Regions from separate parts of the Homo sapiens genome. Here region 1 is reported to be linked to region 2. Evidence: microRNA targets listed by miRTarBase, many of them from high-throughput screens and not tested one by one. Region 2 holds a microRNA gene; the other region holds the end of a gene's coding sequence. Distances are between the middles of the regions.
Evidence for each region. Region 2 holds the annotated microRNA hsa-miR-4666a-3p (CAUACAAUCUGACAUGUAUUU, at 2,095-2,115, opposite strand). A microRNA usually pairs through its seed, bases 2 to 8, with sites in the 3' UTR of a target mRNA and lowers its output. Matches are read on the target gene's strand: a 7mer-m8 pairs with bases 2 to 8, a 7mer-A1 pairs with bases 2 to 7 and ends in A, and an 8mer does both.

Region 1: miRTarBase lists SIPA1L2 as a target of hsa-miR-4666a-3p. Seed matches in the 3' UTR shown: 7mer-A1 at 3,241-3,247.

What each region holds. Positions count from the first base shown.
Region 1 is chr1:232,395,136-232,399,537 of GRCh38, forward strand. SIPA1L2 (signal induced proliferation associated 1 like 2) reads right to left here. Exons shown (of 23, transcript NM_020808.5): 23 at 2,830-4,138. The coding sequence ends at 3,992. Among named protein-coding and RNA genes, the nearest start is that of SIPA1L2, 230 kb to the right of the region's middle.
Region 2 is chr1:228,459,838-228,464,239 of GRCh38, reverse strand. It overlaps MIR4666A (microRNA 4666a), which reads right to left and starts at 2,166; the gene lies at 2,088-2,166. It also overlaps the pseudogene H2BC27P.

The DNA.
Region 1 (4,402 bases), 3.9 Mb from region 2:
AAAATAATAGGTGATCAAATTCTGCAGTTTAGTGGACTCCCAGAACAGACTCAAAAGATAATTGTCAGCAGCAAAGGCAAAACTGTACTATCAGTCCCCTCAACTGTAACTTAGGTTTCTAATCATAAGCCTTCTCCTAGCTATAGAGAATAGCAGGATAAAAGCCTAAATAACTTTGTCACATACTAAAATGGCCTTAATACATAATAGTTCACTCCATATGGTTAGAAAAACCTGCTTATTCTAAAATAATTTTTTTAGCAGATATATTCCACAAAATATTTGGTTTGTATCCAGTAAGTCATAGCAAGTCAATATGTTTAGTTTTTAAGGGGTACATTTTGTAACAGTGTTCACCAGGACACCAAGTTGTTCAAAACTACATGTACTATGGGAGCACGTAGTTGGTTGGTTGTTGACTGGAAACATGTTTGAAAGAGCTTAACAGACCCAAATCATTTTGGCCCTGTTTTTTGACATGGCCCTTTGGAGATGGACTTGAGAGAGACTATTCATTCCTTTGCTAGTATAGACTGAGAACTGTGTTTTCAAGAAATGTCTTCTGGTTTTGTCGTCATGCCTTCGGAAGATGGAATGGCTTTCCATTCAGCTAGGTTTTGGTCAGATTCCTTTATTTTCTCTAAATGATGTCCACCTTTCCACCTGATTAGTTGCTCTAAAGCAAATGCATACACCCTTGATCAAATACGCAGGAGAGCTGTATTCCAGGCCCTTGCCAGGAGCATAACTGTTTGTTGTTAAGCCTTTACTAAAGGCAAGAGATATTTCTGGAAAACCGTCTGATGAACATGCAGTTCATGGATTCCTTTGAAGTCTAGGGCGTATCCCTGGATCCAACCCTTCCAACTCGTCTCCAACCCAGTTCTGTGGGCTCTATCTCCAAATACATTCTCACGTGTAGCCTACCTACTTCTCTCCACTTTCACTGCCTTACCACAGGCCGTGCCAACACCATCTCTTACCTAGACTGGTCTTCCTCGTGTACTTTGCCTTATGCCTGGCATTGGTAAATTATACTCGTGAGTGGCCTGTTTTTGTGTGGTCTTGCAAGCTAAGAATGACTCTTACCATCTTTAAAGGGTATTAAATAGAAATTTGAAAATATGCAACAGAGGCAGTCAGTGACTCCCAAGGCCTCAAATCGTTCGTTTGCAGAAAAAGCCCCACACAGAAAGTTTGAAGACCTACATGGTCCATTCTGCTTTAGAAGTCAGAATAATCCATTTAAAATAGAGCTCTCATCAGGCATCTTTCCTGCTTCAATGGCTTCTTTTTGACTTGGAACAAAATCCAAAGTCTAGCATGGCCTCCAGTTCCTTCATGGTGTGGCTTTTGCTGATCTCTTCAAGCACATCTCCCTCCACTCTACCCTCCGTTACGTCCTGGCTTCTGCTAGACTTCTTGAATACACTAACCTTAGGGACTTTGAACCTCATGTGCCCTCGTCTACCCATGGACCACCCTATCTAGGTCCTGATTCCTCATCTTTAAAAAGGGGAGTGATGATGGCACCTACCTCACATGGCTGCTAGGTAGGTAACACAAAGCTCAACAGGACCTGGCACCCAGGAGCTATTCAAACAGTATCAGTGTTTATAATAATTACTTAAGGTAGCCTGTTGCAGGTACTTTTATTTCTGTCTTTCATGTTTTGAAGTGATCTTATGTCTGTCTCCCCATATTAGATTGTATGCCTGTGCACACAGGGGCCCTGACCGGTTGATCACTGTTGGATTTTCAGCTCCTAGCATGCTGCCTGGTTCACACTGATGGGAAAGAAAAAAAAGGGAAGGAGGGAGGAAGGACAGTATCTATGTGGCCCATAAGGTCCTTATTCCCTGAAAATCTCCAGTCCCTGGCTGCAAATTTTGGATGTGCACCTGTGCATTTCATAGAGGGCAGCTGCATGAAACAGCTTTAGGAAGCCTACTGCTACATCCACTGTGAGAATGTTAATTGTTCAATATGCCTCTCATGTGAAGCCCATATGGAAAATTCCTTTTGGGGCCAATTCTAAGAGTCAGTTTGCTTCCTCTGAATTCTTGATATGCTTTCTGTTCTTCAAAGGTTGAGAGGAATGGACCTTACAGTGTTTCCCTTCACACCTGGATCTATGTTTTGTGTCTTCTTACATTGGATTCAAATTTACAGTTTACCTCTTCCTGATAATTTTTCAAACTCTTACTGTTTTTGTTTGTTTTTTGAGATGGAGTTTCGCTCTTGCTGCCCAGGCTGGAGTGCAATGGCGCTATCTTGGCTCATCGCAACCTCTGCTTCTCGGGTTCAAGGGATTCTCCTGCCTCAGCCTCCCGAGTAGCTGGGATTACAGGCATGTGCCACCATGCCCGGCTAATTTTGTACTTTTAGTAGAGACAGGGTTTCTCCATGTTGGTCAGGCTGGTCTTGAACTCCTAACCTCAGGTGATCCACCCGCCTTGGCCTCTCAAAGTGCTGGCAACACCAAAGTGTTATTTTATTTTATTTTTTTAAAGGCAGTCTTGCGTAAATTACTTCACTTGACCCACAGTTCATGTGGTTGTAAATGGGAACCCCACCTCCTACCTATGAAGGATAGATACCATTGGGGTTAAATGAGATGGATGAAAAGTTCAGAGAATAGTGTCCGCCACACAGCAGCTATTAAAAACTGCTAGGTACTCCTTCCTGAAATCGATCTGGGATTCTATGAGAAAGGAGCTGAACAGTATTTAATACAAATCAAGGTTCTAAATGACCTGAAATAAATTCACATACAGTCAGACTGTTGACATGTTAGATCACAAAAAATCTAGTCACCTGACAACACCATTTCTTATGTGGACTTCTTTTAAACATTTATTAAAAAAGCAAAATGTATGTTCATCTCAAATCTAACAGTTAAAAATGGTAAAGCAATACAAACAATGTGTTACTAGCAGCATCCAGTCGTTAGAATCTCTCACCCTGCTTCTCGGTCTGATCTGTGCAAGCTCAGTCTCTTCTGAGCCTGCAGCTACCTCCATCCCTCATCGTAGTGCAGGCCAAACCAAATTTTATAAAATTAACAATTTAAGGTTAAATAAGCTTAAATAAGGGTGTTAAATACAAGACACTTCATCAAAGCTTCTGTACAAAGATAAACAAATCTGGCATTGTACAAGTGGTTCCGCTGGCTCACAGCACACAGGGAAGTTCTAGTGAGTAAGCAGATTCACTCTCATTTCTTTCCAGCAGAGCAACTATACAAAAGTGAACTAAGAGTTGAAGTGACTACTGACCACTCGGTGAGCCATTTACAAGGCATATGTATCTTTTTTTTGTTTTTAATCAGAACACTGTTAATATTCAGGCACCATTTGTTCCTGCAAATAAATAAGTCTCTAAGGTAACTGCATCTGAACTAGTGTTAAACACAACAGTGCTTTTTTTTTTTTTTAATCCCCCCACAAAGCTTTTCCAACTATGTACTATGCCTCCTTTCTTATTGCTATGGTAATGTGGCTGTGGAAATAAAACTACTGTACATCCAAAAAAATAGAGCACCTTTAACATTAAAGTATATGTCTGATTATTTGTTCTCATGTTTATTTTACAATACTAAAGCCCAAACTATGGTAAATTGCTTTACATCTCTACCAGGTCACCTGATATACAGGAAATAAAACTCAACTATCTTCCCTCTTGAGGTAAGCCCAAGCCAGAGCACTGTTTTAGCAGAGTCTAAAAGAAAAAGGTCTCAACTGTCGCCAGGGTTTACATTCATCTTCACACCAGGAGTTACATTCATTCATCTTCACATCGGCGCTGCTCTCTGCCGTGGTTACCGAGAAAGAGTCGAGGCTCCCTATCCTGCTGTGGTGAATGGTGCTACACAGAATGGAACAGCAAAAACATCTACGATTGGTTGAAAGCACACAGAAAAACCACATGTTTGTGACTTCAAAGGGACAAGGGGCATTTCCCAGTGGTCCCTTGATGAGGTGCGGATTGGCTAAGATTTTTTGTCGATGGTGGTGAAAAACCATTCTGTGAATTTCCGCAGCTGAGCTGTCGCGGTCTGGGACTCCTCCTGCAGTCTCATGTTGTCCTGTCTCAGGTGCTGCACTTCTGCTTGGAGAACGGCCTTGTCTTGTTTTTCCTGGTCAGAGCAGAAATAAACTGAGTCATGGAGACTGATCGATACATTCATTCCTCCTAAGCTGGGCTACGAGAATCTTTGATTCTTATTTTTACTTATGTACTTTTTGAGGGGAGAAGGGGTGACTTTCTTTAGTGAGGGGACTTTTCTGATCCTGATTCCTGCTGATGACAAAGGGATGGGAATGAACACTCCACACACCCTGTTCTTTCATCCCACTCTGCTCCCATGGGGTGCTAAGATAGCCTTTATATAGGAAGGGTG
Region 2 (4,402 bases):
GTCACCAAGTACACCAGCTCCAAGTGAGGTGCGTCCCGGCGCCCCGAACCCAAAGGCTCTTTTCAGAGCCACCTCCAAGCTCCAAAAGGAGCGTGCCACCTGGTCTGGTTGTGACCTGTGATTCAATTGGAGTAATGAGGGAAAGTAGACTGAGCCGTGGGGGCGCAAGTCTTAGAGACAAAATTAGGCTTCTTGTTTGTAACGGCATATTTCCCTTAGAAAGGCTGCGTTCGTCTTGTGTTGGCCACAGGCAAAGTCAGAGAGGGGGCAGTACAGGCGATTGCGCCATGGATCCCATCCAAAGATCTGTGTGTGGCTTACGCCCTGCGCGCGAGGAGCGTGGGTCACCTCCGGGAAGATCTTGTGCCACGTCCCCGCCCCCAGTGCCTCCTGGCGGCTGAGACTGGAGGACGTGCTCACTGAGGTCCGGGGTTGGAGGTGAGGGGGTTATCGCGCCGTCTGGGCGGAGGCGCTTGGGTCCGTTCTTCTCCCGCCCCTTTCCTCCCTCCTTAGCCACAACTAGACACTGTGAGCTTCTAGCCAAAACCATTTCAGCAGCGTTGCGCCTAAGCAGCTCTTTATGCCACGCCTTCCTGCTTGAAACATCAAAACAGCAGGCTCACAGATCTCCTTATCACTCAGCTAAAATTTCCCCAATTAAGGGATTCTCGTATTTTACCCCCAAAATGTGTGTGTGTGTGTGTGTACGCATATTACACAGTGAAAGATTATTTTGAATAATGCAAATATAGTGCTTTTTAAAAAAAACTCCAGCAAATCATAGGAAAAATAAGTATGATCTCTGGATGACACATTAAAAACTAAGGCATGCAGGCCTGACTGGGGCCCAGGCTGTCCTCCCCCTAAAAATACCCCATACCGGTGACACCCCAACCACGAATACCTGAGAGCTACCCACCCTCTAAGCAAAAACGTTGCCTGGAATTAGAATTCGGTTTCCAGGCTCAGTTCCCACTGGTAGAAGATGCACTCTACCCAGGCTCAGTTCCCACTGCACACTCCCAACACAATGACAGCCACGCATTTATCAACATTTAACCTCTCTGGCCTCATAAAGTAAATCCATTTTCTTGGGTTAGTTTCTTCTTAAAGGGAGTTTTCTTTCCTCCAAATTCTTTTTGTAAATAGGCTTTATTTTTTAGAGCACTTTTTCAGAGCAATATGCTTTTTTATTAGTAGTACGTAATAGTTGTACATATTTGGGGGGTACAAATATTTTGATATACGCATAGGCTTAACAATCAAACCAGGGCAACTGGGACATCCGTCATCATATTCACACCCTCTTTAGGTCGAGATCATTCCAATTCCTCTCCTCCAGCAATACAACTAATTATTGTTAACTACAGTCACCCTACTTTTCTAACCAATACTAGATGTTACCATTTCTTCTAAGCATATTTTTGTACCCATTAATCAACTTCATCTCCTCCTTTCCCCACCACTCTTCCCAGCTTCTGGTAACCAGCAATCAACTTTCTACCTCCATGAGATGCATGTTCTTAGCTCCCACGTATGAGTGAGATCATGCAGTATTTGTCTTTCTGTGCCTGATTTGTTTTACTTAACATAATGTCCTCCAGTTCCATCCATGTTGCTGATGACGGGATTTCATTTTTTTTAATGGCCAAATAGTATTCGAATGTGTAAATGTACCACATATTCTTTATCCATATATCTACTGATGGGCACTAAGGTTGACTTTCTATCTTGGCTATTATAAATAGTGCTGCAATGAACATGAGACCGCAGACATCTCTTTGATATACTGATTTCCTTTCTTTTGGATATATACCCAGCAATGGGGTTGCTGGATCATATGGTAAGTCTGTTTTTAGTTTTTTAAAGAATGCCCATATTTGTCTCTATAGTGGCTGTACTGATTTACATTCTTACCAGCAGTGTACAAGCATCCCCTTTCCCTGCGTTCTCACCAACATTTGTTATTTTTTGTTTTTTAATCAAAGTTGGTTTAATTGGAGATGATTCCTTCCAAATTATTTTATTTACTGCATAATAATTAGCAAATCTGACTTGAAATTTCCATCTGAGATGGGTGAGGGGCAATCTCTTAAATACATGTCAGATTGTATGCCAGTCTGGAGGGATTTTGTAGGCATACAATCTGACATGTATTTAAGTGATTGTCACTCACCCATCTCAGATAGGTGAGATGAAGCTTAGTTTAAAAATTTGGCTTAGTTTAAGAATCTTGGCATGTCTCTCCAACCCAGAAAATGCTTCCATTTTGTTGAGTGAGTCCTAATTCCCTTAGTCTCTGTGGATTCTCACATATTTGATGTGCACTGCCTTCATTTATCATTAACATTTGTCTTTCTCTGTTGTAACACTATAATTAGAGAAATGGGTTCTGGACACGATTGCTCTGAATTTTCTCCATTATAAAATCTTAGTAGCAAGGATCCTGTTTTACCTTCTTTGCCTCTCCCTTAACAGATCCCTGTCCTAGGAGAGACGGACAAATCCCATTCATTCTGGGCCTGGGGGTGCTAATGTAGCAGGAAAAGACAGCCTGTTTCTACTTCAAGTTTGTGCCAGGGGAATCAGAAGGACTGAGACATGAATTGACTGACGTTTGACATTATCCATCACAAAATGCCTTCTTAGAGAATTACACTTGGAAAATGTCATGAAATGTTCATCTTGTGCCTTGATTTGATCTCTGGCACTAACCAGTGTTGTTGCCTTGTGCTAACACAATCATTCACTCTCTCTACTGGAGACTGGTTTCACTTTATTAAACCTATGTTTTAAGTTCATTAAGGTGGAGAACTATATGGGTCTGTGAGAGTAGTTTCACAGCTGCAAATGTTTAAGGTATTGACTTCCAATCCATGCTGGTAGGAGGCCGAGGGCTTGGATGTTCCAGTCATTGGGCACCTGTTTCATAGTGGAGAGGACTGGATTCAACAGCTTTTCATACAAATCCTATATTTCTTGACAGTACTAAGGGTGTTGACAAGTCCCACTTACTTTTGATGATGGATCACTGTTTAATATTTGGATTATAACTAGGGATGCAAAGAATTGAATAAAGTGCCTATGACAAAATTGTCATTCCTGTGTATTTTTTGTAAATTTTTTTTGGAGCATATATCAAAACAAAACAGAATGGAAATGACCCCGTGCACTGCTAGCATTGTAACCATATGGAAATGATCCCATGCTGTGCTAACACTGTAACAATATGAACACTGCATGTGTGCAGTCATTGAGGTGGAAAGGAGAGGAGAGAAGAGAGTGGGTGCACCATCCAGCTCATTAAGAGTCAGTTTCACTAAAAGTTTATCTGTTTGATAACATCAAATTATTTATGTTTTGAACAATTGTGTACTGTCGAGATGATTTTTCTTAACAGTGAGAGACTACCCAGAGGTATGCTTAAATTTCAATGTAGACTTTTTTGCAGAGAACAATAGACAAAACACTATTAAACATACAATAGATATATTATGGTAGGGTGAAATTGTAAGGCAAATGGAGAATGGAAATAGGCATTCAGGAGGAAAAAAATCATCTGAAACATCGCATTGACAAAGAAAAATTTGGTCATGTATTTTATGAATTGATTATACTATCATATTGATATTCCAAAAGGCACCTTGAGACTGATGTGAGAATTTTGATTTTTAAAAAGTTCCACGTTGGTATTTGTATCTTTGCAACTATTTTAATTGAAAATAAAAATATTTTAGATAGCTTTAAAACATGCGAGGTTCTCAAAGATTCTTGTAGAGGAATCACGCAGGAAAAAAAAGGTGGGGAATAGGGGACAAAGCCGTTTTGGTCGAGGATGTTCACGGTGACCTTTCTTTCCCCATCCCAGGCACGCGACGGGTTCCCTTTGGAGAAATGACTTGGGGGAAAAATATTTTTCATTGAATTTTATTTAAAAATTATTTCTCGGCCAGGAGAAGTGGCTCACGCCTGTAATCCCAGCACTTTGGGAGGCCGAGGAGGGTGGATCACGAGGTCAAGAGATCGAGACCATCCTGGCCAACATGGTGAAACCCCGTCTCTACTAAAAATTAAAAAAATTAGCTGGGCGTGGGTGGCGCACGCCTGTAGTCCCAGCTACTCGGGAGGCTGAGGCAGGAGAATCGCTTGAACCCGGGAGGCCGATGTTGCAGTGAGCAGAGATCGCGCCATTGCACTCCAGCCTGGGCGACAGAGCAAGACTCCGTCTCAAAAAAAAAAAAAATTATTTCTCATTTAACTTTATTGAATTTTTATTCCCTGCTGGAAATGGTGACACAAACGCTCAGTACTTCGAATTTTCACAACGGTTTGAGGAAGCAATTACTGGAAATCTTCTTTTTCTAAAGAAGAAAAGCCAAGTCATGAAAACGTAAACGATGCC